7 separate regions of the Homo sapiens genome follow, and all the other regions are linked to region 6. Evidence: fine-mapped expression QTL. A gene starts in region 6. Each other region holds a variant in brackets. All regions are shown on one strand. Distances are from middle to middle.

What was found. PIP is the estimated chance that this variant, and not a neighbour inherited with it, causes the effect.
Region 1: its variant is the best candidate, but not a certain one, in a credible set for the expression of WDR41 in monocytes after interferon gamma (Fairfax 2014, PIP 0.68).
Region 2: its variant is the best candidate, but not a certain one, in a credible set for the expression of WDR41 in monocytes (Fairfax 2014, PIP 0.63).
Region 3: its variant is the best candidate, but not a certain one, in a credible set for the expression of WDR41 in fibroblasts (GTEx, PIP 0.80).
Region 4: its variant is the best candidate, but not a certain one, in a credible set for the expression of WDR41 in subcutaneous fat (FUSION, PIP 0.87).
Region 5: its variant is the best candidate, but not a certain one, in a credible set for the expression of WDR41 in whole blood (INTERVAL, PIP 0.72).
Region 7: its variant is the best candidate, but not a certain one, in a credible set for the expression of WDR41 in cerebellum (GTEx, PIP 0.84).

Annotation. Positions count from the first base shown.
Region 1 is chr5:77,440,939-77,444,938 of GRCh38, reverse strand. It overlaps WDR41 (WD repeat domain 41), which reads left to right. Exons shown (of 13, transcript NM_018268.4): 9 at 3,942-4,000. Among named protein-coding and RNA genes, the nearest start is that of WDR41, 49 kb to the left of the region's middle. The variant A/G (reference allele first, on the strand shown) is at 1,794.
Region 2 is chr5:77,528,458-77,532,457 of GRCh38, reverse strand. It overlaps a transcript of WDR41 not described here. Among named protein-coding and RNA genes, the nearest start is that of WDR41, 38 kb to the right of the region's middle. The variant G/T (reference allele first, on the strand shown) is at 2,451.
Region 3 is chr5:77,219,479-77,223,478 of GRCh38, reverse strand. All of the region lies in intron 1 of PDE8B (phosphodiesterase 8B), which reads right to left. Among named protein-coding and RNA genes, the nearest start is that of PDE8B, 11 kb to the right of the region's middle. The variant C/G (reference allele first, on the strand shown) is at 2,471.
Region 4 is chr5:77,155,686-77,159,838 of GRCh38, reverse strand. It overlaps a transcript of PDE8B not described here. Among named protein-coding and RNA genes, the nearest start is that of PDE8B, 53 kb to the left of the region's middle. The variant C/G (reference allele first, on the strand shown) is at 1,602.
Region 5 is chr5:77,417,820-77,421,819 of GRCh38, reverse strand. It overlaps PDE8B (phosphodiesterase 8B), which reads right to left. Exons shown (of 22, transcript NM_003719.5): 18 at 3,374-3,591; 19 at 1,933-2,053. Among named protein-coding and RNA genes, the nearest start is that of WDR41, 72 kb to the left of the region's middle. The variant T/C (reference allele first, on the strand shown) is at 2,268.
Region 6 is chr5:77,490,017-77,494,016 of GRCh38, reverse strand. WDR41 (WD repeat domain 41) reads left to right here and starts at 1,701. Exons shown (of 13, transcript NM_018268.4): 1 at 1,701-1,847. The coding sequence starts at 1,797. RefSeq lists silencers at 1,396-1,535, 1,976-2,195 and an enhancer at 1,316-2,239.
Region 7 is chr5:77,564,844-77,568,843 of GRCh38, reverse strand. It overlaps a transcript of WDR41 not described here. Among named protein-coding and RNA genes, the nearest start is that of OTP-AS1, 63 kb to the left of the region's middle. The variant C/T (reference allele first, on the strand shown) is at 2,182.

The DNA.
Region 1 (4,000 bases), 49 kb after region 6:
TGATCTTAGTTATTTCTTGTCTTCTTCTAGCTTTTGGATTAGTACTTTTTACTTTATAAACTCTATGACTATAAAATTATACTACAGATAATAAATAAGCCAAAGGCGTATTTAGGAATCAAACATGACCAAGTAGTCTGTTAAAATTTGAAAATGATCTGCTGACAGTCTCATCTTGCAGTACATAGGCACGTTAGCCATGATGTGGATGTCAGTGATCCTGAAATGTTTATGTTGTACAGTTCCCTGCTTCACTTGCAGGAGCTCTGCTCCTTTCTCCTCACCCATTACCAATGAAAGATATGGCCAGTTGCTTGGGATTGTACATCACAGGGCAAATCTGTTTTCAGAGGGGTGGCCCCAGGGCAACCTTAGAATTGTATGAGAGAATACCAACAAGTGTGGATAATGAATACCAGATTTGCTAAAAAGATTGGAATGCCCAGGCAGAAGGTTTTCTAAGACAGACAAAAAATAACTGATAATCTCTCCAGGCAGAAGGCTCTGGGTGCTCCTTTATTTTATTCCTTTTCTTGTATTATGTTGCCAGCATCTTTTGGTAATCATGAAGTACTAGTACTTGTGAGGGATGGATAGACAGATACCAGGTGAGATTTTCATACTAAGTGGCTTTTGACACAGGATGAAAATCCATCCACTAATAATATATAATTGAGGTTGTTTGTCATGAAACATTTTGAATGACCTGTTTGGGAATTAGTTTGCCATGTGTAAACTGCTTAAAAATATGTGCTGATTGGCCAGGTGCAGTGACTCACGCCTGTAATCCCAGCACTTTGGGAGCTTGAGGTGGGTGGATCACCTGAGGTCAGGAGTTTGAGACCAGCCTGGCCAACATGGCGAAACCCGTCACTACTAAAAATACAAAAATTAGCCAGGTGTGGTGTCACATGCCTGTAGTCCCAGCTACACAGGAGGCTGAGACAGGAATTGCTTGAACTTGGGAGGTGGAGGTTACAGGGAGCCAAGATTGTGTTACTGTACTCCAGCCTGGGTGACAGAGTGAGACTTCATTTCAAAAAAAAAAAAAAAAAAAAAAAAGTGCTGATTGAGCTGAATGCCGTATTTTATTTTTAGGGAAAATTCCAACTGGTCATTAATATTTTGTTTCTACTGCATGGAGGTATCACAGACACTTGGAGGATTAAGTCAGAGCAAGCAGCTGCATGGTCTCAGTAGGTTAATTCTGTGTTGTGACTACAGATGCAGAGTGAGAGTCAAGGGGAATCTTCACTCCTTAGCTTCTCTGGTTCTTTTGTAGTTTGAATGAAATAGGAAAAAGGAGGGAAAGGTGTGGGAAAGAAGGTCCTGGGAAGATGAGTACTGCCTTAACTTTCCCACTACTAAAACTAGAAGCCCGTTTTGCTCCACAGATGAGAAGTGATTTCTCCACAGAGCAAGTTCTATAGAGTCTGTTAATAAACTATAGAAATTAGATATTAATAATCTACCTATTATGGCCTTGGAGTCAAGACAAATAATATTTACATGTAGGATTGCTGGTAATTCTGTATCTCTTAAGAGATTGTTCATGTGGTCATTAGAGATTTCTGTCGTGCTGGTTTATTTGATAAATGAAATAATTAAATCATAATTACTCATCTGTATATTCCTAAATTAACAAGTAACAGGATGTTTTAATACGATTAATGTGGAATAATACCAGGGGCTCAAAATACTACCAGGGGCGCAAAGATAATATTTGATGTCTTTTTAAAATGGCTACACGTTTATTATTCAATTTGATTTTTAGTCACTCATTTAATGCATGA[A/G]GAATCCAAGATAAAGGTTAAACTACTTCCTAAAGACCACCTGTCTAGCAACAGGCAGAGCCAAAATCAGAACTTGGGTTTCTAGACTAAGTGCATTATAGTCTTCTGTCTTACCCTAAATATGTAATAATTTAAATAAATTACATTTATTTGAAATAAGACTAGCAGTTGTACATTTTCTATTAAATATATAGTGTGTAAAATAAATAATATGTAAAATGGAAAAAAATCCTTTTTTTTTTTTTTTTTTTGGGGAGACAGAGTCTCGCTCTGTCGCCCAGGCTGGAGGGCAGTGGCGCGATCTCGGCTTACTGCAAGCTCCGCCTCCCGGGTTCACGTCATTCTCCTGCCTCAGCCTCCCGAGTAGCTGGGACTACAGGCGCCCACCACCACGCCCACCTAATTTTTTGTATTTTTAGTGGAGACAGGGTTTCACCGTTTTAGCCAGGATGGTCTCGATCTCCAGACCTCGTGATCCACCTGCCTCGGCCTCCCAAAGTGCTGGGATTACAGGTGTGAGCCACCGCACCCGGCTTTTTTTAAAGGTTTTAAAAACTTGTAAAAGTTATACATAGTCATAGTAGAAAAATATGAAAATAGTGAAAAACATTAAAAATATAAAAGTTAATATTAAAATCTTTCCACTATCCAGTATTAAACACCAGTCCACATCTTTCTAGGTGATTTTCTGGGCCTATGTATGTGTGTACATGTGTATTAATATGGTTTACTGTTTTGTAACAATATGTCATAAATATATTTCCATATCTAAGTTTATATTGTTAAGCATACTTTTATAACTTAATTTTTAATAACAGCATTACTATTTCATTTTGTTGATGTCTTATTCAATTCTCAATTCGATGTGTAGTTATCTTCAGATTTTTAAGATTGTGTATTTGTACATATATGTATGTAACAACCTTGTACATTTATGTATTTCCTTCAGGATAAATTCCTAGAAGTGGAATTGTTGGATCGAGATTTACATTTTTCAAGGTTTTGATACATATTAGCAAATTAATCTTTGAAAAAAATACTAATGTATAGTAGGGCATTAGGCAATACAGGAATGTGCTGATTTCTTATGCTTTTGCCAGTACTGTGTTGGGTATTTTCCTGTTTTATATTTCCTGATTCACAAGTCAATAAATGGTATCTCCTTGTTTTTAGATTTCTTTGATTATTAAAGGAGTTGAACATCTTTTCACGTTTACTGACCATTTGTATTTGTTTTGCCTTTTCAGGTCCTTTTCCCATTTTTTTTTCTGCTGTATTTATCTTGTTCTTAATAATTTCCAAGAACTCCTTATGTATCAAGTATAATAAACCTGTTTTGTCATCCAAGTTGCAAATTTTTCCCAGCTTTTTGTCATTTCAGTGTATTTGTGTGTGTGTGTGTGTGTTTTAGACTGAGTCTCGCTCTATTGCCCAGGCTGGAGTGCAGTGGCGCGATCTCAGCTCACTGCGACCTCTGCGTCCCAGGTTCAAGCAGTTCTCCTGTCTCAACCTCCCAAGTAGCTGGGACTAAGGTGCACACCACCATGCCCGGCTAATTTTTGTATTTTTAGTAGAGATGGGGTTTCACCATATTGGTCAGGCTGGTCTCGAACTCCTGACCTCAGGTGATCCACCTGCCTCGGCTTCCCAAAGTGCTGGGATTACCTCGCCCGGTCCTTGTTTTTGTTTTGCCAAGCAGCTACTTACTAGGATCTCTTCCCCTGGCACCCCACTCTGCTTCCGTTAGAGCCCTTTACCACTCCACATTCCTAAAAGTATTCACCTTTATCTTCTTCCATCCTTTAACTAACTTTCATGTTTTAATCTATTTGAAACTTATTTTGGTGTATGGTACAAGATAAGGTTCTTTTACTTTTATTCCCCTTAAATGTAACCAGATATTCCAGCATGAGGTATTTCTTTACTGAAATGAAATGCAATCATTATTACATACTAAATTACTAAGATAATTTGAGTCTATTTCTGGCCTTCTTATTCTGTTACATTAATCTTTCTGTTGGCTTGCCTAGGTACCTCACTGTTCTAATTACTGTGGTTTTATACGGCATTACTACTAGACATTCCATTCAGTTATATCTTTACATAGATAAAATGATCGATAATGAGGCATATGTGAACTTTGCCTAGATTTGAGTTTTGTCACCGGCTCCCACGTCGGAGAGCTGATCATCTGGGATGCCCTGGAC
Region 2 (4,000 bases), 38 kb before region 6:
GGATATATACCTACAAGAAGGATTGCTGGATTGTAAAATATCAAGATATTCAACTTCAGTGAATAATGACTAACAGGTTTCCAAAGTGGTTGTATTAATTTCCATCTCCACTAGCAGCATTTGAGAGTTCCTGCTATTTTAAGTTGCACTATACTTGTTATTGTCCATTTTTCCCCCTGAACTTTCATCATAAAAAATTTCAAACATACAGCAAAATTGAAAGATTTCAGTGAACACCTGTATACGCACTACCTGAATTCTATCATTAACTTCTTTTAGCATTTAGAACCTTCTAAATCCTCTCCCTTGTTCCATTTTTAAATTTTTAAAATTGAGTTGAAATTTACATAATGTAAAAGTAATCATTTTAAAGTGAACAATAAAGTGACATTCACAAGTAGTCATTCACAATATTGTACAACCACTATCTCTATCTAGTTCTAAAATGTTTTCATCATCTCAAAATAAAACTCTATAACTATTATGCAGTTAATCCCATTCTTCCCTCCCCCTAGTCCCTGGCAACTACTGATCTCCTTTCTGTTTTTATGGATTAACCTCTTTTGGATATTTTATATGAATGGAGTCATATAATATGCGACCTTTTGTGTCTGGCTTCTTTTACTTAGCATAATGTTTTCAAGATTCATCCACCTTGTTGCATGTATCAGTATTTAATTCCTTTTTATGACTGAACAATACATTTGAGCTATTGTGAATAATGCTGCTATGACCATGTATAGACCACATTTAGGCTATTTTGAATAATGCTGCTATGTACAAATATTCGTATGAGTACCTGTTTTTACTTTTTTTGAGTACAAATGAATTGTGGGGGCATATGGTAATTCTATGTTTAACTTTCTAAGGAACCACCAACTGTTTTCCACAGCAGCTGAACATTCCCACTACCAATGTACAAGGGTTCCTATTTCTTCACATCCTCACCAACACTTGTTATTGTCTGTCTTTCTTGGTTATAGCCATCTTAGTGGGCGCAAAGTGATATCTTATTGTGGTTTTGATTTGTGTTTCACTAATGATGTTGAGCATCTTTTCATGTGCTTGTTGGCCATTTATATATTTTCCTTGGAAAAACGTTTATTCAAGTCCTTTGCCCATTTTTAAATTGGGTTGTTTGTCATTTTGTTGTTGAGTTGTAAGAGCTCTTTCTATATTCTGGATGTGAGACCCTTTTCAGATATACAATTTGTAAATGTTATTTCCCATTCTGTATGTTGTCTTTTTACTTTCTTTTTAATGCCTTTTGATGCACAAAAGTTTTAAATTTTGATGAAGCCCAATTTACCTATTTGTGTTGCTGTTATTTGTACTTTTGGTTTTATATCTAGAAATCCATTGCTAAATCTGAGGTCATGAAGATTTACCCCTGTTTTTTCCTAAGAGTTTTATAGTTTTAGTTCTTATATTTAGGTGATTGATACATTTTGAGTTAATTTTTGTATAACAAGCGAGGTAAGGGTGCAAGTTCATTTTTTTTGCATGTGAGTATCCAGTTGTCTCAGCACCAGTTCTTGTACCATTAACATTTAACTGTGCTTGTTTTATTATATTTCTACCCATTCATCAATCCATCTTACCTTTTTGATACATTTCAAAACAGAGTTCTTCAATCACTTTCTTCTAAATTTTTCAGCATACATATCATTAAATAGAATTCAATATTTGTTTACAGTTAATTTTTTAATGTAAATTTTACATATAATGAAATGCATAAATCTTAATTGTTCATTTTCTAGGTTTTGACAGCTACATATGACCATATATCCCAAACCTATATCAAGATAAAACATTATCACTATGCAAGGATATTCCTCCATGAATTTTCCCAAACTCCCAAGAGTAGAGGAAGTTTTTTTCCACTATAGATTAGTTTTGCCTATTCTAGAACTTCATATAAATAGACTTGTTCAGTATATTCTTTTTTGTGTAAGGCTTATTTCACCCAGTATAATTTTTTTAGTTCATCCATACTGTTGATTATATCAGTAGTTTGATTTTTCTTAGTGATAAGTGGTAATTCATTTTATAAAGATGTTTGTCTATTCTTCTATTGTTGGACACCTGGGTTATTTCCAGTCCAGGGCTCTTATTAATAAAGATGCAATCAACATTCTTGTCCAAGTCTTTTTCTGGATATATGTTTTCATTTCTCCTGGGTAAACACTTAGTAGTAGAATTGTTGGGTAATAGGATAGGGGTACCATTTTCCTAGCAAAAATGAATGAGAGTTTTGTTTGCTCTACATTCTTGCCAATATTTGAGGTTGGTGGTCTTTTTAATATTCGCCATTCTGGTGGACATGTCATGGTCTCTTATCGTGGTTTTAATTTTGCATTGATGACTAATGATGTTGAGCATCTTTCTTTCTCTCTCATTTTGTATGTGACTGGCTTTTTCTTATTGCTTTATTCCTTTCTGTATCTTGA[G/T]AGAAGCCTTTATGACACATATGTAAGATGTATCAGTCATTTCTATGGTTAGTGTTTTCCAAACTAATATTATCCCATGCTGCCAACTAAAATATTTATTTGTTTTGTTTTTTGTGCTTAGGTCTACAAATCACTTGAAACTAATTTTGGTACATCGTATAAAGAAGCAGCAAAAATTTATTTTTTCCATATGAATATACAATTTTTCCAGAACCATTTATCTTTTAAAGATCACTATTTCCCCACCATTCTATGAGCTGCTATTTTTCATAAACCATGTATTCATTTATGCCTGGATTTGCTTCTTAACTCTCCATTTTCTCTCATTGATCTGTTGGTCTGTCTTCATACCAATACCACATTGACTTAATTCTGTAGGTTTATAATAAATTTTGATATATGATAAAGCAAGTCTTCTCACTTTGTTGTTCTTTTCCAAGATTGTCTTGGCTAATCTTGGCACTTTGCATTTTCATTAAAATATTATAATCAACTCGTAAAGTTTTAAGAAAATTTGGGGTTTTGATTGTGGTTTTATTGTTTCTCTGTATCAGTTTGGGGGAGAATTGACATCTTTATAATTTTGAGCCTCTGAATCCATGAACGTGGTGTATCTCTCCATTTATTTAAACCTTTAAAGTTTTTTTTATCAGTAATAGTTTAGCGTTTCTCTGTGTAGAGGTTTACAAGTTTTTAGATTTATTCTTGTTTGCTTTTTTTGATGTTCTTTATAAATGGCATCTTAAAGTGTCTATTTGTTTATTTGTTGTTGGTATATAGAAATAAATTGATTTTGTTTATTGACTTTGTAGTCAGCAACTTTACTAAAATTGCTTTTGATATCTAATATTTTTTCTGTAGATTATTTTGTATTTTATATGTATGCCATTATACATGTCAGCTATGAATATGACAGTTTTATCTCTTTCTTTCCAATTCTTATACATTTTAATTTTTTTCTTGCCTTATTGTACTGGTACAGTACAAAGTTCAGTACAAAGTTGATAGAAGAAATGACAGTGGGCATTCTTATCTCATTCTACATTTTGAGGGAAAGCTATCAATATTTCATTAAGTATAATGCTATAGGTTTTTAAATAAATAATCTTTATCAGATTAAGCAAGTTCACTTCTAATTGTAGTTTGCTGAAAGTTCTTTTTTAAAAAAATAATGATGAGATATCGAATTTTGTCAGGTAATTTTTCTCTATCAAAATGATAATATGATTTTTCTCTTTTATTGTGTTAATGCTCTGAATTTTATGGATTGGTTTTAGTGTGTTAGTACAGCCTTGCATTTCTGTAGTAAACATGCCTTGCTCATATTATGTTATTCTTTCCATGTGTTGTTGAATTTTACTTGCTAATATTTTATGTTTGGCATTTCTAAATTATGTACATGAATGAGGTTGGCTAGTAATTTTTCTTTTTCAAAATGTTCTTGTCAGGCTTTGCTATTAAGCTTATTTTAGGCTCACAGAAGAAGTTGAATGATAGTCTTCATTTTCCTATTTTCTGGAAGTGTTATGTAAGATTGACATTATTTCTTC
Region 3 (4,000 bases), 270 kb after region 6:
TGGGTAGTCCCTACTGAGATGCAGTGTAATTGTAAAATACATTCCAGACTTTAAGAACTTAGTTCCAAAAAAAAAGAAAGAATGGGTGGGGGGAGGGGGGAGGGATAGCATTAGGAGATATACCTAATGCTAAATGACGAGTTAATGGGTGCAGCACACCAGCATGGCACATGTATACGTATGTAACTAACCTGCACATTGTGCACATGTACCCTAAAACTTAAAGTATAATAATAATAAAATAAAAAAAGAAAGAATGTAAACTATCTCATTAACAAATTTTATATTGAGTACATGTCAAAATAATATTTTTAATATACTGGTTAAGTGAACATGTACTAAAATTAATTTACCTGCTTATTTTGACTTTTAAAAATGTGATTCATAAAAAATTTTACAATTACATGTGCAGGTTACATCTGGGTCACATTTTATTTCTATTGGGTAATGCTGCTTTAGAGCTTCAACCCAAAGCAAGCCTTATCTGGCAGTCTCTGAACCATAACACCCAAGAGTATTCTCAGCCATCAACTCCACCAGACTTTAGAGTCCTTCTTAATCAGTTCTCTTGGATCCTATTTATGTCTGGCAGCTTTGAGCTCCAGGCTTAGAAAGCCTGACCTTAATTCTGCCTCTGGCCCCTGCCTGTGGCCGTACAGTTGTCTGCTCCTTGGCTTTTCCTTACAGTCTTCAGCTGACTTACCCCTCAGGCTCACAGTTCTTCATGCTCTCCCAGTAGGAGTGTCTCACCTGGAAGAACCCAATTCCCAATCCGTAACTCCTGCCAGCCAGCCGGCACTCAGTCAACACATTGCCTTCCCACAGAAGACGACAATATAGGGCACAAACAATGGAAGCTCCCGAAACGTGGAACTATGTCATATTCTGTTTTTTGAGATGGAGTCTCCACTCTGTCACCCAGGCTGCCTCCCAGATTCAAGTAATCCTCCTGTCTCAGCCTCCTGAGTAACTGGGATTACAGGTGCAAGCCACCACGCCCAGCTAATTTTTGTATTTTTAGGAGAGATGGGGTTTCACCATGTTGGTCAGGATAGTCTCGAACTCCTGACCTCGTGATCCACCCGCCTCAGCCTCCCAAAGTGCTGGGTTTACAGGCATGAGCCACCATGCCCGGCCATCATATTCATTTTTTTTATCACTCCAAACCTAGAGTAGCGCCTTAGTATAAGGCAGAAAATACACACACACGTACTTGAGAACCTAGCGGGTTTACAGGGACTGTACCTCTAGGTTGTACCAATCCTTTTAGAGATGCATTATCCCTACCGTGCAAGGAGAAATCATGCAGCTTCTCCAAAGTCACAAAGTTTGTACAGGGCAGAGCTGGAATTCAAGCTGGAGTCAGTGAGCACCTTTCCTTCACACCAGGTTACCCTTTTGCAGCCACAAAAATTATAGCAAAGGAGCTGCAAGGGGGCCTTGTGAAATGCCTCCTTTCAAAAGCTCCATGATGTTTGGGGCCTTGGCATGACTAGAGAGGGCTAGGTGGACACCAGGATGTGCCTCCACCCCCAGGGTGGTCAGTGGAGTCCCCATCTACAAACAATGAGTTTCGAATAAGGACACACTCAACTTAGCTAGAACTGTTTCTTCAAGAAAAGTGCCTCACCAACTTGAATAAGCTCCCTTCAGTCAAAACTGGGCAGTCTAAGCACAAATAGGTTTAATAACTGCAATGCATCAACACATCAAATACACATAAACCCATAACGATTCATAATGATACTAAGCAAATTAACAGGCAAAGAACTCCTGTCACCTTAGGAGAATGCTAGGGAGTCAACTCTTGAAAAAAGTTTCTTGAGGCATTCCAATGAATACATGAAGACAAAATGATAGCATATCACCATTTTACAACCTCTAATGACTAATGGATATAAGCAATGATCGTTAATAAGAGTTAGCATCACAGAAAAGAGACAACCAAACATCCTACAAAACTTCGCATACTCCGATTTTCTGTTAGCATCACAGAAAAGAGACAACCTCCACCCTACAAAACTTAGTATAATCCAATCAAACCTCTAAATCAAACTACGGTTTCTAGCAAACACAGAAGGCAGGGAAACATGTTAGATGCATCATGGGAATGCAATAAGTAAACTTTAGATTGGGGGAAAATCTACAGGACAAACAACCCAGGTTCCTCAACAAACAAACTGCAAGTATATAGAAAAGAGAGACTGGAAGGGGAAGCTACAGATTAAAAGAGACTTAAGAGGCATAGCAACCTACTGCAATGAGTGGAGTTACTGTTTGGATACCAACAAACAGTAAAAGAATAAGTAGTAAGACAATTAGAAAAGTGTGATTGATATTAAGTTGTCATATTTTTGGTATATAATGGTTTTATGATTTATTTTTAAAAACAGTTCTAGTTAAAAGATACCAACTGAGCTATCTGTAGATGAAACAGAAAATAAGTGCCACAAAGAAGCTCGACACACCC[C/G]TTTTTACCTGGAGATAAAATAGGACAGTGAAAACAGGACGGTTGAGCAGATGTAGCTCTGAGTCCCTAGCTGTGTGACCTTGGTCAAGCTACTTGAGCCGCCTGTGCCTCCACTTCCTCCCTAGCAATGTGAGGTTAATAACACCACCTGAGCCCCTCAGCTCCCCAGCACACAATGGATCACTAAAGATAACTACTCCCTAAAGGAACTTCACGAATTCTCCCTCATCTGCTTCATCAGCCTCTAATTAAACCCGCTTCTCCCAAAGGACACCCATACAAAAGAAATGGGAGTTCTAATTCAATTTTATGTTTCTTTCACAGCAATATTGTTTCAACAGTGTAAATATATTCCAGCTACATAATGGGCTAAAACTTTTTTGTGCTAACCTAGAAACCTAAATGCCACATATAACATGTTTCTATATGAAAGTCTTTCCCCAATAACAACTAGGTGCCTTACAAACTAATGTTTGTCATATAGTCTGCATATAAAAGTGAACACTGCCTTTCACGTTCATCCAAAGCATTTCCTGGTTGTGTTTTAGGATTCAAAGTTCTCACCTTTGATATAATAAGAGATTCCAACCTTTTGCCCCACCTCCTTGTCCCTTCTTGAAAATCTCAACAAAGTCTGCAAAACTCCCCTCTACCACTGCCCGTAGGGAGATCAGGCTAAGTGGATCACACTCCCTTGCCCTCACCTGTTCCTCCCAAGGGATGAAGGCTCCACAGTCAGTCAGCCAGTCCCAGGGTTTGACAGTCCTAATGGGCCAGATCACTGCAGAGAACAGCCTGGGTGTCAGAGACCTCACCCTGGGCTCCACATGTGACTGAGAAGAAGGGCAGGGCAGCAACCACAAGGACAGGAGGACCTGCAAGAGTCTACTGGGTGAGGAGGGGTCCTGAAACTGGCTTCACAGACCCAGCATTATAGATGTGGGAGGGGGAGAGCAGGAAGTCTCCTGAAAACTTACCCGCCTAGGTGTTCTGTCCCAGCAACACTTCCTAGAGCAGGTGTGTGCACGTGCATGCATGTGTGTGTCTGAGGCTGCACATGACAGATGGATCTGGGATGAAAGGTTGTATCCACCCAATGCTTGCACAGGCACAGACTAAGCTGATCCTTGCTCCCTTCAGTCTTTATTTGGCCATCCTTCTTTTGAGCATCACACTCTCGACTGTGGGGGAAAGAGACTTCTAGTTCCAACTAAGGCTCAGCTCCAAACACTATTGGTGGCTTTTGTTTCCTTGCAGAGACCCCATTTCTCGGCCAAGACTGTCAATCCATTTTTTAAGCTGAAAATGAGTATGTCCCACAAGGCCCCAGGACCACTAGTGGCTGAGGTGTGGATTGTTGGGTCATCACTGGCCTTCATAAATGTATTTGTCTCTCCATTTGGTCATTGCTCTCGTTTGAAGCTCCCTCAGCAGGAACCCTGGAGTGGACAAAAGCTCTGGCTATCCTGAACCCTTGTCATCACCTTCCAGTTCCGGAGCTTTAATGCTATTTGTGGTTCTGACGTCAGA
Region 4 (4,153 bases), 330 kb after region 6:
ACCCTTCAAAAGACCAGAGGAGACCAACCCTTCATATCCTAGGCAGGCTCCAGGCTAAATCCTGAACAACTGCAGCACATTAGCCAGTGTGGGCTCACATGGGGCCCTGCCATTGTTAAGTGGTGCTCTCCTGCAGCTCAAGACTAGCACTGCTGGAGAGCAGGGGCTACCTGTAGTAATCAAGGTTCTCCTAGAGGGACAGAACTAATATGATATATGCAAACGCACCAATCCCCAACCCAAATACATATATGAACGGGAGTTGATTACATATTAACTTACATGATCACAAGGTCCCACAGTAGGTTGTCTGTAAGCTAATGAGTAGGGAGAGCCAGTCCGAGTCCCAAAACTGAAGAACTTGGAGTCTAAGGTTCAAAGGCAGGAAGCATCCAGCACAGGAGAAAGATGTAGGCTGGAAAACTAGGCCTGTCTCTCCTTTTCACGTTTTTTCTGCCTGCTTTATATCTGCTGGCAGCTGATTAGATTGTGCCCACCAGATTAAGGGTGGATCTGCCTCCCGCAGCCCACCGACTCAAATTATAATCTCTTTTGGCAACACCCTCACAGACACACCCAGAATCAATACTTGTATCCTTCAATCCAATTAAGTTGACACTCAGTATTAACCATCACACTACCTATTCACCAGGCTTGGCTCAATCGCTATGGCCAGGAGGATGGAGTAGTCTGATTGGCCAGCTGGGTTATATATCCTTGCCCCTATGGTAGAGGGCGACATAGTCAATCAAGTCCCATTGAGACCACATAGAGTAGGGCAGGAGTCCCCACAAGGGAAGGAATGATGGATATGCTTAAAAGATAGAGATGTTACCACAGAGGGCAAGGAGGCATTCTCTCACCTGCATGCTCAGGCTCCCTGACTCCCTCCTGGAGTCACCGGGCCATTTCCCTGTGTTACCTAAGGAGTATACCATCAAGTAAGTACACTTGATGTTGAGTCTCATGTGTTGCTTGTCATTCTATTATCCCCAAGAACTGGAAGAGATGGTCCCTCTTTCTCAGGTGTAGTGGGATCTGTCTTCCCTGCCGCGGGATCACAGGTGATGTGTGAGAAGAAAGACTGAGGACAGGCCACACCCAGAGGAAAACCTGGAGTCCTGGAAGGAGCCTATTTCAACCTAGGAACGTGCATGTGTGAAAAGAGTCGGCTACAGGTGGTTGTGCAAAGTTGGTAGAAGGTATTCCACCCACAGGCCACCCACCCAGGCTCCATCCACAGGCACTCAGAGCTCCAGAATCAACCAGATGTCCTTCTCCAGTTTATACAAATCTCTCCCTTCTTTAATTTCCTGCTGCAATTTGCACTGGCCTGCTAGTGACCTCCCAGTTGCTCTTGCATTGTTTTAGAAGAATTCAGCATGTCTCCTTAACTAGCAGGAAAGCCACAGGTTAAATACTACCTACTTCCTTAAGCCTCCCTTGATTACCCCAGCCTAGGATGATCTCTCTTTCCCCTTATCCCTATTTATACTGGCAGTCGACATTCTGCTTTGTGGCAGCTTTTCATTTGTTGACTTGAATCACTACATATTTTTAGCATCAGAGTTAATTCTTTGTGCATTCACACTTTCTCTCCC[C/G]ACACGTTGTCTTCCATTTCTTTATATCTCCAGCTACATACAGCACCCAGTACCAGGCAATCTAGCCTAGTGGCTCAGAACCTGGGCTTGAGAGTCATACACCTGGGTATGAGTTCCAGCTCTGCCACTTACTAGCTGCATGACCCAGGACAAGTTATCTGCCTCTATCTGTCTTCTTTGTCTCTAAAATGAGGATAAAGGTAGCCCCTTCACTGGGTGGTTGCAAGGATCGAGATAAATGAGTGGCAAGTGTCCCACACAGTGCCAGCTATTAGTATGTAAGTGTCTGTAAATACCGTCTGATTGAATGGCTCTGATGGAGGAGGGGCAGTCAGTAACTAGAGAGAGGGATGCTCTAGAGCAGGGCTGGGAAGCCAGAGCACCCGTGGGAGGACCCCATGCTGTCCTAAACAGGGAGGCAGAAACCTGGTGACCTTAGGCAACAGACTCCATGGGACAGGTCAGAGTTTTGGTTAAGGGAAAGACATGTGGGGAACTGAGGTTTCATAACACAAATTAAGCTAGTAGAATATTACTAATTCATTCAGCAAGCATTTATTAAGCACCTATTGTATGCCAGGAAAATAAGATATTTTCTCCTTGGATATAGTTAAGAGAATAATAGCTAGAGTGTGTCCTCTATCCACATTTATCCATCACGCCTCTATGTGCATATATAGTTCGCCTCATGACTTATAGCCTGAATCGTTGTGATTGTCTCTTAACTAGTCTTCACAGCCACCCTCATGTTTTCTTTGCTAATCTATACAGAGCAGAGCTGGCCAAATGAGTTTTCTAAAATACCTGAACAATGTATTTCCTTTCTAATGTTTTAGTGGCTCTCACCTGCTGGGATGTCTGTCCCTTCTGGGTCCCCACACTCCGGTGTTTCACACCTCCAAGTATGTTTCAGACACAGTCTTCCTGTGTCTCAACCTAGCAAATATCTTTTTATTCTTTAAAAAACAGTTCAAGTATGAGTTACCCTGGGAAGCCTTTCATACCCATCAGAGCCACCCACTATATTTAAATAGAGTGAATTTAATGCATGGGATTGATTTTCCAGAGGATGAAAACATGGAGTCACCAACCAGGAGACAGTGAGACAGTTTTTTAGCACCAGTAAAAAACTGTTACCACCCAGAGGCTGGAGGGGCGATTAAAGAAAGTCACCAGAGCTCAGAAGCCATGATCACCCTGCTGAAGCTGGACCCCAGTGGACCTGTCTAGTGGGAAATGGACTCATGGGAGAGACCATATGCTTTTAAGATTTTGAAGATGCCACTCCAGGCAGAGAAAGGGGAGAGCTACCCTGACTTTCCTCTTCTCCCATCCTCCAGCCTGTCCCAGCACCTCCCACTGGCTGAAACAGCCAGCAGCCAGCTGACACTGAACCTGAAGGGGTTTCTACACCCCATCCCTTACCTCCCCACCCCATTCCTGCCTCCCCCAACTACCCAGAAAGTGGGTGAACAGAGGAAGAGTGAGGGGTGGAGCTCCTTCCTTTCCTGCCTCCCCTATGGTGATAGCCACCCTCTCTTCTCTCTTCTCTGCTCTCACTGTGATCCTGTTTTCTTGATAACACTGATTCTACTGGGCTGTGATCTCTCTGTTTATAAGCCTGTTCCTTACTAGATTGTGGAGTTCCACAGGGTAAGACAATGGCCTTATTCATCTTGGCATCCTCAGCTCTGGGCATAATTCACAGTATGTAATAGACAGCAGTACGTAATAGGCACTTAATCGTCCTTGGGTATCGATTGAAAGGAAATTCCTGGGGTCACCTCCAGCTAGCTCTCCTTCTCCATCTCCTTTTTCAATCTACCTACATTGACAGTCTGAACTCTCCTCAGCACTGAAGAATAAACAAGAAGGAGCTTGGGGTTCATTCCCCTCTCTGAGTCTGCAATCTAGGGCCTTATATTTAAATTCTCCCAACAACAAATCACAATAGTTAATTACACTCAGAGCACCAACAACCTATCAGCCTTCTACCTTCCCATAGCTACATGAACATTATCCACAGAAATTCCCCTGAATCTCAAAATATCTTCCCTCTACCACCCAAGATGTTTCTGGGCCACCTCTCTCTGCTGTTAATCAGTGCGTGCTCAGGGTAAACAAACTAATTTTAAAATCAGCTTAAGCAAAATATAATTAGGAAGATAAATTAGCTGCCCCCCAAATTGCATAATGAATGCCCAAGCAGCAATTATTTTTATTATCCACCATTTTTTATTATCTATGTAACATTTTCCCTTCCGTCATTACAGATGATACTTAGCTGACAGCAGAGAGAAATAACACAGGACTTAACTTCTGGCCTTGATAATATATCTATACAATAATTACCAGGGGAAAAATACCTGGCTTTTGTTTTTCTTATCTTGAATTTATAACACCAGCCTAGTGGTATAGCAAGAAGGTACAGAGAAAAATACCCCTGATACCAGAGTCAAACAGCCAGGGTTCAACTCTTCGTTCTGATTTATTGCTATACCATCATCGGCAAGTTAGGCAACCTCTGAGAAATCAGTTTCTCTACATGTAAA
Region 5 (4,000 bases), 72 kb after region 6:
TGGAAAACAGATGGTCAGATCAGGCTTGGTTCAAGATGACGGTGAAGCCCACAAGGGTTAATTCGCCAGGCATTCGATGGTGATCACCGAGCACACAGGTAGGACTGGGACTCGGCGAAGGCAGCTTTTCCTTTTTTAAATTCCATATATAATATACTGACACATTCTTTAAAAAAAGAATATACTGATACAGTCTTAAAAGACACTCAGCAATACACACACACACAGAGTTTGAAAGTTGAAAGTCCCTGTCACCACCTGTCTACCCCTCACATCCATTTTCTTCCCTAGAGGTAACTGCTACAGCAGTTTTGTTTTTATTTTGAGCAATTTGATATGTAATCTTAGAGGAAATTTCTCCCAGTTTTTTTAAAAAAATGTGTAAAAGCAGAGCTTTTAGCTACTTTAATGCATTTCAGGTAGGGCAGTGGCACATACATGTAACCCTTCAATTATTTCTTGATTTCTACTACTTATGCCTACCATCTCCCTCCCTCCTATGACCTGTCCCACCCCCAACTCACCCAACTCTCTCGCACTTTGGTTCTCCTAAGGCATGTGTCCACTCATGTTTTCTTGGCTGTTCTTCTGACTGGCTGGTAAGTGAGCCAGGTAGGCGTGGGGTCCTTGGAGTAGGAAGTAGTCAGGAGCAGGTGTGTTCAGCCATGTTTAGAAAGACTGGTCCACACCTAGTGGTGATGTCAGTGTCCTGAGCCATGTGGCCAGGACACGAGTTGGTACACACATCACAGGCCATTTACATAGAACCTGAAAGATTGTTATTCTCCACTTTTAAAGACACCATCAAATTGATTGTGTAAAAACAATTAGGTCTCCAGAGCTCTGCCAAGCCAAAAGGCTGCATGACATTTGGGGGGTTTAAGACTGGACCTATTTATTAGACTATCAATGGGCAGAATATGTTCTGGAGGTTTTTGATTACTTATCAAAGTAATACTGTTTACTATAAATACTGCAGTTAATAGTAAGTTGCAGTGCAGAGGTGGGGGCTTACATGAGTGGATGACCTTCCTAGTTCTATGAATCTCTATACTTTTCCTTCTCTAAATCCCCAGATCCTTGCTCCTGTAAGTCTTCTGTGGAAGGAGAGGGCTCTGGTGTTGTGCTGTGGAATCCCTGGGGGAAGGAGCTTAAATAGGTGAGGTAGACACTGTCACTCCATCCAGACTGGTCATGGGATGGGTCCTACACAGTTCATCTCCTTACTGAGCAAGTTACTCATGATGATCATTCACATCCATCCAGTTTGCCAACCTCTGCCGCTCAACAGGAATGAGCGGAAAGCTTTTCTACCTTTATGGGGTTATGAACAGCTTCATGGCTTCAGAGAACAGTGGATCTTATTAGGTGTGAACCTTCTGTTTCATGTTCCTAAAAGCCAAATTGGTAAGGACCTTAAGGCAGGTCCAAGGTACATGAGTAGGTTTTAAAAAAGGAAAACACAATAAATGCTTCTGCTTTCCAGTCACTCCCAGTTTTATGATAGTCTTCAGGTACTGGTATGCTTTTAATGTGAATCAGGAACATTCTTTGTTTTTTAAAACACCTTCCAACTTTGAGGTTTTCCAAGAGCTCAGTGAACAGAGAAGTAAAGGCTTTGGATTCTCTAAAATACCACCATTTATGCCAGTCTCTGTTCGTCTGCGTCTCCTTCCATATTCTTTGGGCCAAGCTTTTCTGGTCAGTACTGGCTTTTTCTCAGGGCCTTTCTTTCAAGGAGCTCAGAGTTGCTGTGGACACAGTTTATTTTCATCCCCAAGGAAAACAAGTGGCCAGTCCTTTCAGCCCTTTATCAACTCCAAGTAAATAACCACCTTACATTTGAGTGGGAGAGAAAATGCTTCAGGGCCAGAGCAGGCTCTTATGGAAATGTACTTGGATGTGCCTTATGGCATGGAAAGCAGTACTCACCTCAGCTGCCATTGGCTTGTTGATGCTGTTCACAAACTTATTCACATGTTCAAAGTGTTTTGTCATCTCTGTTGCCAAAACCATGTCAATAATAGCCTGGCGCAGCGTTCGATAATGGTTCCTAAAATAACCACAAGACAAAGGGGCTTGTTCACAGCGTGTCTCAAATTATAACTATTCTGCCACCATTTCACTACACTCCTCACAACCTAGGAGGAAGCTGGGGCACAGAGTTAAGAAATGTGTGCAGATCACAAGAAGAGCTCGTCCTCCCAGTAAGCAAGACTTGCAGATGCTATTCCATTTTCCCCAGTGATAGCTGACCCTTATGTGAT[T/C]TATGAGTATTTTAAAAAAGAGAGAAGGTACCTGTCACATGGTGGACGTTTATCTGACAAGGTGATTCCCCTCTCCCTTCCCTTGAGAACATCAAAACAGTAAGGTGGCAGGAAATGGCAGGCTGGCACGGCAGCCACATAAGCTGGCCCACTGCACTCTGTGCAAACACAGGGATTCCCATTGCACAGGATGGCCACAGCCTCTTTCAATGATGGCATTGGAAGACTTTCCTGTTAATAAGTAATTCTCTAGACTGCAGCAGATAGAAATTGTAATGAATGAAGCAACAACCCTGCCCCAAATTAACCATCCAATTCTGTCGTCGTTTTCTAACTTCAAGAGCCAGAATGGCTCTTGAATAAAATTGGCTACTGGAAAGAATTTTTTCTGCAAAAGTTTAAAAACCCATCCTCGATACTGATGAAGCTGAAGCCAAAGCTGGAATAACTCATCTCCATGTTTTCCCAGTTTTCTGGAGACCAAACCAATAGGTTCACATAGACCAGCATTCCTGAGGCCCGAGTGAGCTCCATGTTCTCTGTACACTGCCCCCTTCCCAGGCATCTGTGCACCAGCCTGGCTGGTGCTGTGTGGGAAATACCCACAAGCCTGACTGCAAGGTGCTGGGAGGCAAGAGGACCTGCTCACATCTAACCCACTCTCATCAGAGAATGCGGGGCTGGGGTAACCTGCCCCACCCTTCGTGCTCCCGCTCTGTGGGACCTACTCATGAGGGAGTATTTTAAGCGGCCGGAAATTGAGCTAGGGAAAAATGGGGGTGGATACATTTTCCTCGAGTTACACAAAAGACAGGATGTCCTCGTAGGAGGGTAAAAATATCTGGTGTACTTAGTAATAGTACAATCAATATTTATGTAGTGTTCTGCAGTGTATAAAACATTTTTATGAACTCACTGAAGACCAAATGAGATTTCAAAACATAAAGGCAGTCTGAAAAGTCAAATTAAGTTAAGGGCAAGGTTATTTTATCATCTGGTACAGTGGGACAGCTAATATTTTCCCTTTCCCCTAAGAGGAAGCTAAGTATTTGGGAAAACCACTTAAACTTCACAAACTTGAGCACAGGAGCCCCAGCACAACAAACCTGTCAATATTCTTGAAAATGTTGCATTTGGTGTCCTTGACCGTGAGCTGGAAGGCCAGGGCGGTGTGGTGACTCTCCAGAACAGCAGTGTCATTGTAGAGCACAGCAAGCTCACTGCCTGCATTGCAGAGGAAAGAGTTGGTCCTTCCCGGGTGATCCACGTCATGGACTGTGGCAGCAATGAGGGCTGCCACCTCATCCAACTGATCGAGGCTTCCCTGGGATATGGGGAGGCAAGGTTGAGCATTACCCACTGGATCTTGGAGACCCACATCCATCCTTGTCTGTGCGGAGGGTCGGGTCAGGGGATTTGAGATTTTCAGAACGTTTTTAGCCAGCTGAGCCTTCTGACCTAGATGTGGAGAGGCGGCCTCGGACATGCAGCATCGCTTTACTGTGCTGTCTGTTATCTGGAGGGCAACCTGAGCCACAGTTACAGCAGACGCTTAATTCATTCTCCAGGGGCCATCAGCTGCAGGAAGAGGCCAAACAAGCCTTTTGAATTGCCCACTGTATGGTATTTCTGCCACAGCAGAAAGTGGCCTGTGATCACAACTATTACCAATTTGCCTAGCTCTGAAAAGATTTTGAGTGTGCTGGTAGCAAATGGCTCAGATACAACAAAAC
Region 6 (4,000 bases):
CAAATTACATCTTTATACATTGTGTGCCCAATAATATACTAATCTTGTAAAAAATTCTTTCTTAGCTGTCCTAAGAGGAACCAAGGGAGGAAGTGTTCAACCCTGGACCAGTGCTTTAAAGCATCAGCAGAATGTCCCTTACATCAGAGTAATGTGGCATTGGGCAAACCCTAAAGAGCATGGGGCAAACCCTAAAGAATGTGGATAATCAGAAGAATAAAATGTAGGCTATTTGGGCAACCACATTGTCTCACGTGAAGATATTCCTTCCAGAACTGAACTCCTGATGTCTCTGAGTTTTGTTTTACTTAAAGATAAGTCCCTCTTTCCCAGGGGATAGTCTCTGTTTTGGTCTGTCTTCAACTGTATGCAGACTGCAATTTGGGGCTAGCACACAGAAGGCAACATGCTCCTGATCCTTGGGAGTGTGTTCTTGCCGAGTGCACTCAAAAGGAATACAAAGATGAATTATAGGAGATCCGAGTTCCAGAGGGACTGTAAGTTTGTGTAGCTGCTCACAACCAACTTAGCTTAAAGTGGGATGTATGGCTCTCTCTTATTGGTGACTGGGACATTATGCCTTGTCCCTCCAGAGCAGCATTTTATGTGATTCCTTTCTGCTTCTCTAGTGCATCTGTGTCCAATACATGTTTGCTGAATTAATGCATTAGTTGGGACATTTGTAGATTCCCTACAACAATTTACTGCTAGGAGGATTATTTGAACCTAATACATATGCAAATATATATATTTATACTTTTGCAAACATGATATGTATAAGTAGTTCCTAGACCAGTGATTTTCAGACCTTGCTACTCATCAGAATCACCTGAGGAGCCTTCCCAAAACCCCGATTCCTACGTCCCAACCACAAAGATTATTTTAATGAGTCTGAGGTGGAAGCCAGGAATCTACATTTTCAAAAGCTACCCAGGTAATTCTGATATGCAGTCAGCATAGATAACCACAGCCCTTTGACTACCTAAGAAAATGTAGTAGTCAAAAAAAGGTATATGAACTGCCTTCTATTCTTTAGGGAGATTCTATGTTAATATAGCATACGGTCAAGAACACTACCAATGTAGCCACTTCCTAGCTGTTATCTTTAGACAAATTACCTAATCATTCAGAGCTTTAGTTTCTTGATGTGTAAAATAGAGGATATAGGTTTACCATGAGGATTTATGTAAAGCCTTAGCACAGTAGCTGTACTATAGCACACAGTAAATGTTGGCCGGATTTATTCGGCTGTACACATGAGCCACTGGATTTGTCTGGATGCAGAAGTCTACTGCGGTACACCTTCTTCAGCAAGCTCTTGGGAAAGCAGGGGAGATTTCCTGGTACCCTAGGAAGTGGAGGATACTAAAGCCATGTCACAGGGAGGGGCATTATTCTTCGTGCGCGCTTGCTCGCCGGGGTCGGGTTGCTGCTCCGCGCGCGTCCACCAGGGGCCGCTCGAGCTACCTAAGCTCCGTGCGCTACCCGGCGGCGCTCCCGCGCGTGCTCACTCGGAGCAGCGCGCGCCCCGCAATCGCCGCAGCCGCCCCCGCCGTCGGCCGCCGCACCCCAAGCGACTGCCCAAACTAAGCCTCCGTGGCTGGGTACGGGAGCGCTTTGGGGACAAAAATTCTCCCTCAACTGTGGTCTGCATTCCTTCGGCCCGTGGGCTGATCTGGGGCGGGAAGTATTAGCGTCTCAGTTGCGCTGCAGCCGGGGAGGAAGGAGGAGGCCGAGCCTGGGGCGGAGTTTGGGCTGACTGGGGCTGGACCGGGCAAGACGCCGCCGCTGCCCGGATGTTGCGATGGCTGATCGGGGGAGGCCGAGAACCGCAGGGACTGGCCGAGGTAAACCCCGGGTGGGTCTGCTCTGCGTCCGTCGAGCTTGCTGGAGGGGCGGCTTCGTTCCGGTTCGGCCTTCCTGGGTTCCGACCGCGGGGACCCGGGCGGAGGCGGGGCTGGCTGCTGAGCTCGTGCCACGCGCTGTTCTCACGACGGTGGGGGCGGAGGGCGCGGGAGCCGGAGCTCCTCAGACCCGGCGGGACCCCAGGCGCACCCTGGAGCTGCAGACCCCCGGCCCCGTCCCACGGCTAGCTGAATCGTGAGATCCTGGCTCAGGGACGCTCAGCTGGTCAGCAGTCCTATTGGGACCTGTGACAACTTAGGGCTTCTGGCTACCGAAACTATCTTCATTTCCACTTAAAAAGTATACGATTTAGCTAGAAACGAACGAGTTGTGACCGCAGCTTTCCACTTTTGGTTTATTTGAATTGGTGTCTCTTCCTGGCGTCTACTGATACTTGGTCAGGGAATATAAAATTAATTTACTTATCCAACAACCGAAAAAGGATATAATTATTTTTAAAAAGTAATCTGCTTCAAGGTCAAGAACATGATTTTCTAATTAACTGCTGTTTTTGGTTTCATAGTCACACTTTCTTCATGGGCCCGAATAATTGAATAGACCGTGTGTAATGAAATTTACATTTGAAATGTGAATAAAATAATTTTTGCAGTCTTGGAAATTTTGAGGTCCCAAATTTATTTCGTATGCCACACAAGAACTTTCATGCGCGTCCGTGTGAAGAGACCACCAAACAGGCTTTGTGTGAGCAATAAAAGCTTTTAATCACCTGGGTGCAGGCGGGCTGAGTCCGAAAAGAGAGTCAGCGAAGGGAGATAGGGGTGGGGCCGTTTTATAGGATTTGGGTAGGTAAAGGAAAATTACAGTCAAAGGGGAGTTGTTCTCTGGCGGGCAGGAGTGGGGCAAGGTGCTCAGGGGAGCTTTTTGAGCCAGGATGAGCCAGGAAAAGGACTTTTACAAGGTAATGTCATCACTTAAGGCGAGGACCGGCCATTTTCACTTTTGTGGTGGAATGTCATCAGTTAAGGCGGGGCAGGGCATTTTCACTTCTTTTGTGATTCTTCAGTTATTTCAGGCCATCTGGGCGTATATGTGCAAGTCACCGGGGATGCGATGGCTTAGCTTGGGCTCAGAGGCCTGACAAGAACAGAATTTGTGAATTGCATTTTATTTCTCATAAGAAGTATTTGTTTAGATTGTTAAAAGTAAGAAATTGGATTGTTGAGAGTAGGCAGTCTTCTCAATTTTAACTTCCGCATGTCTTTGCAGTTGACGGTATTGTCTGTTTTTAAAAATTTCTTATTTCAGATTAATCCTAAATCCTTGAGATTGTGGATTATTGAATAGCCATATATGGTATATACGACATTTTGGATAATTCTGTTTTAACCTGGTTCTTTGGTTAATCATGTTATTTGCTTAACCAGGTCTCCCATTCCTGGCAAGTTTTCATTGGAGGAGAAGCAGTTTATATAGTTTTCAAATTTCTCACCACAATCTCTTCTAGAAGGAAGACAGAATAAATACAAAATCAATGCTTTGTGGTGGTGGTTTTTTTTTTGGAAAACATTTATGCATGTTTTAAATTTATATATTTCTTCATATAAATCTAATTGAGTTGTATAACTGCTGTGAATTTGTACATTATCGGAACCTATGATTGTCCCTAATTTATGCAATAACTTTGTATCCAGGCTTCTCGTTTAAGCAGTGGTTCTCAACTGGGGTGATTTTTGCCCCGCAGGAGACATTTGGCAATGTCTGGAGACATTTTTGATTGTCATGCCTTGCAGAGGGGCAGTTCTATTGGCATCTAATGTGTATAGACCAGGGATGCTGCTCAATGTCCTGTAATGCACAGGACAGTTCTCAACAACAAAGAATTATCTGGGCTGGGCGCGGTGGCTTACTCCTGTAATCCCAGCACTTTGGGAGGCCGAGGCGGGCGAATCACTTGAGGTCAGGAATTCAAGACCAGTCTCGCCAACGTGGTGAAAACCTGTCTCTACTAAAAATACAAAAATTAGTTGGGCGTGTGGTGCGAAAAAAAAAAATTCTCTAGCCCAAAATGTCAGCATCAAGTTTGAGAAATCCAGAGTTGATTTCATGCCTTCATTTATTCATTTAGCAAGCATGT
Region 7 (4,000 bases), 75 kb before region 6:
TCCAGATTAGGTGTGGGAAGCCAGACACACAAAGAGCTTTTCTGGGAGAGGATAGTCTGTTGATTCACTCCTGTGTTACAGTAACCTTCCTGGTTGGATATTTATCATTTGACTCCTATCTACCACATACTAGTTAATAATTCTTGTGTTTCCATGGCATCTTAGAGTGTGCAGAATGCTTTCATGGGCACTATATTGTTTAGTCATCACAAAGACCCTTGTGAACTATGTGGCCTTTAGGGGAAATTATTTTCTCCCCCAAATCATATTACCTGTGCGAGGAGTTGCTATTTAGATAACTTACAGTTACTGCAAAGTGACTGCTCTTCAAAGTATATAGAGCAGAAGAAATAGGGACAAGCAATTTCATTCCCAGCTAGCAGAGCTCTCATACAGGTTCATAATCTCAGGAAGAATGGGTTATTTTGGACATTTGAGAAAGTTTAAACAACAGATGATCCAAGGACTTAGCAACCTTTACAGCCGCACAGTGAAAATCCTGGCACAAAGGGGAACTGTTCTTGAATAAATTCTCCAATGTCACAGGCAAAAATAGCCCTTGTCGTGGTTTGGCCTCAGCAGCTGTTTGCTCTGCCTGGATCAGAGCATGGCAGAATAGTATTCTGGCTGGACAGTATCACTATCTTGTACATTTCATTATCCATAAGCCTGATACTGCCCTTAAACAGCCCTCAAGGCTACATCTTAAAGCTCTATATACCCTGGAAGCAAACACTTTCATCAGTTCTTGCTTTAGAGGAAGTGTGTATTGGATCTTTAACATGGTCTCTAAGTCAGTATAGCTGATATAGACTCAACTCAGCTGGGGGTTGTGGAACAAGAAAAAAAAAGATCTCTTGCTATGAAACCAATGGCAGGGATATCCAACTCTTTTTTTTTTTCATTCCCTAGGCACTGATTTTCAACATGTGGTCCATGGACCCTTCATACTTGAATCACTATGGTGGGATGAGGCTGGGGTCGGGATGAGACGGGAGGAGTAGGAGGATGAATAAAGGAAGAAGAAGGGCTACTTATTAAAATGCATATACTTGGACCCAAACCTATTAAGTCAGACTCTCTAGAGAAAGATTTGGGGAATGTTCATTTTAAACAGGTTTCTTAGGTGATTCAGAATAGCATTGGTTCCATGTTTTAATTTTTTTTTTTTTTTTTTTTTACTATTTGGTTTAGGGTAATTGTATTGTGTTTACTTCAGTACTTAGTTTGTAGAGATAACATTTATTACTAATTAAAAATAGTTCTGTTGATGCAGTGTTTGTACTACTGCTTGAGAATGAGGGGTTTGCACTAACCCTGTAATGTTGGTATGTACATGGGTCAAGTAACTCTGTGAGGATGGAAGTGGTGCTCTTTTTTCAACCTCAGCATCAGCCAGCCTTCTTGCAAATGTACAGGCAGTAGTTGATCACAGTGAACAAGCCAAGAGTGCAAATCTTTTTCTCTGGTGGCTTAATGACACCTACCCAAGAATGCTAGGAGATGTATAGAAAAAACTAAATGCTGAAATGCAAGCCAGTCACTTATTCTGTTTGTTAGCTAATATAATAAAAGCTCCATTGAGGAAGAGATGGCTTAATACCTTGACTAAAATTAAATTTTTGTATTATCTGTGGATTTCAATTATTCATGCTATTCCAAAACTGCAAAGCATGAAAAATCTAGAGCTACTTATTACCTGTTCTAGTAGAACCTCTAATAAGTATGTGGAAGCCGATATCAGTGTAAATAGAGCAATGGACTCTGTCGCTCTACCTCATTTGTTTTTAGCATTTTAATAGGGCTCAAATTTTCAGTGTGTAGTTCAAGACAAGAAAGTTGGTTCATGTACTACCATATTGGCTCTCCTATGAATGTTGGAACATATTTTTTCCCATTAACATGAACTGATAGAAGTGTCTCATTCCATCACATGGAGTGCCATTTAACTCTAGTGACTTCTGGTGCCCCTCAGATCATGCTGACTGTTAGGAAAACCAGACCCCCAGGCCCAGACATGTGCACAGACTTTGATTGCAGTCAATTCACGCACCCTGAGGCATAGCAGGTCTGTGTGTCCGAAGAAGTGGGCAACATAAAAAACAAGTCACTTATTATCCTGACATAAACAAATTTTGATGTCCACTCTACTTTCAAAAGCATATTCTTTTAATCCCTCTG[C/T]CCCCCACCACACAAGCGTGCATATGTATGCACCACACCCTCAAACTCACTGAATAAATAAATCCCTTTCTTTAAAAAATGGCAGCAAAGGCCCAGAAATATTGAAAAGGAAACTCTCTAATGAAATATGTGTCTTGGCTTGCTTTAATAGCCTTCAGAATGGACAGTTTGGGTAAGGGGGAATTTTTATTTGCATCTTTTTTTGTCCTAGAATGGTTTAGGTACTCATCGCTGCAACAAATATGCATAAATTAAGAGTTATCTAAAAGGTTATGTAGTATCAATATAAATAGAGACCCAGGGAGACCTAAACGACATACAGGACAGTGAGTAGAGAACAGTTGCCTTTAACTAAACAAACACATAAAGATTAGTAAATAGTAAAATAGCTTAGTTCTAGGCAGATGAGTTAGATGGCCTCATAAGCCCTTTCTGCTGCTCATGTTCTATGATTCCATGGTGTGTTAGCTAAGACAATAAGCTTTGGAAAGACTGCCCAGGTTTGAATTTCAATGCTTCCTCTTATGAATGGTATTAAGCTCACAAGAGGAAGAACTGAAATTCAAACCAGAGCAGTCTTGACCATAGAGAGGTAAATTATTTCACCTCTCTATGTTTATTTCCTTGTCTAAACAAGGAGTTTTATTTTAAAATCCTCATAGGGTTGTTATGAGAATTAAATGAGTCAATATATATATCTGCTATGCAGTAAGAAGTCAATGGGTTTTAATTAATTACAATAATGTGTTGAATACCTACAATACACCTTCAGATGTTATCAGGAGAAACATGAAAACAAATTTTTGGTTCTTCTTTTCATGACATTTACACTCTGTCTATGGAGAGAAGATTTATAAAAATGTAGTAGGAGAAGTATAAAACAGCATGGTACTGACTTAAATCACAATAGGAGGCAGAGAAGGAAAAAATGTAGAGGGAAGAGTATGGCTAGAGGACACTAGGTAAGAAGGTCAGATGGGGCTCATCTTTGAAGGAAGGAGGAGGTTTATATTGGTGGGTAGATGGGGAAGGAATCTTTGAGTCTTTTCCCTTTTAAATCCCTTATAGTCAATCTATCACCAATTTCTTTCTCTTTAATATGTCATTCAAATCTAAATAGTCCTTTCTACTCTCATTGCCATGATTGCAGTCCAGGGCCTCATGACCTCAAGTTGGAATGATTCAGGGGGCTCCCAGCTCAGGGAAAATGAATGGAGGAATTGACACGAGAATAAGATTAGAAGACTGTCCTTGTCAGACTAAAAATTAGATCTGAAAAAGTAAGGTGGGGCTAGGTTATGGAGACTTTTAGGAATTGGCAAAGGGCATTCAGCTTAACGTGCCTGGCAGTAGGACACCATTAGAAATGCACCATGATAAAATTGGTATTTAAATGCACTGTATGTGTTGAAAGTGGAAAGACTGTAGACATGAAATCAATTGAAATCATGGTTCCAAGTCTAGTTGTGTGTGAGAATCAACTGGAGAGCTTTATCCCCCAAGTCTTCTGATTCAGTAAGCCTGGGGCAGCCTGAGAATCTGTGGTTTTGCAAAATTCCCTCAGGTTATTGTGCTCTGCATCTAGGATATGAGAAGTACTGAGCTGGGAGCCCACTGCCTCATTCCAGGCTTGAGGTCATGAGGCCCTGTAGTACAATCATGGCAATGGGAGTAGAAAGGACTATTTAAATTTGAATGACACATTAAAGAGAGAAAAGAAATTGGTGATAAATTGACTATAGGGGATTTAAAAGGGGAAAATACTCAAAAATTCCTTCTAAGTTTCTACTTTGATAGAAGAAAAGATAGTTTGAAATAC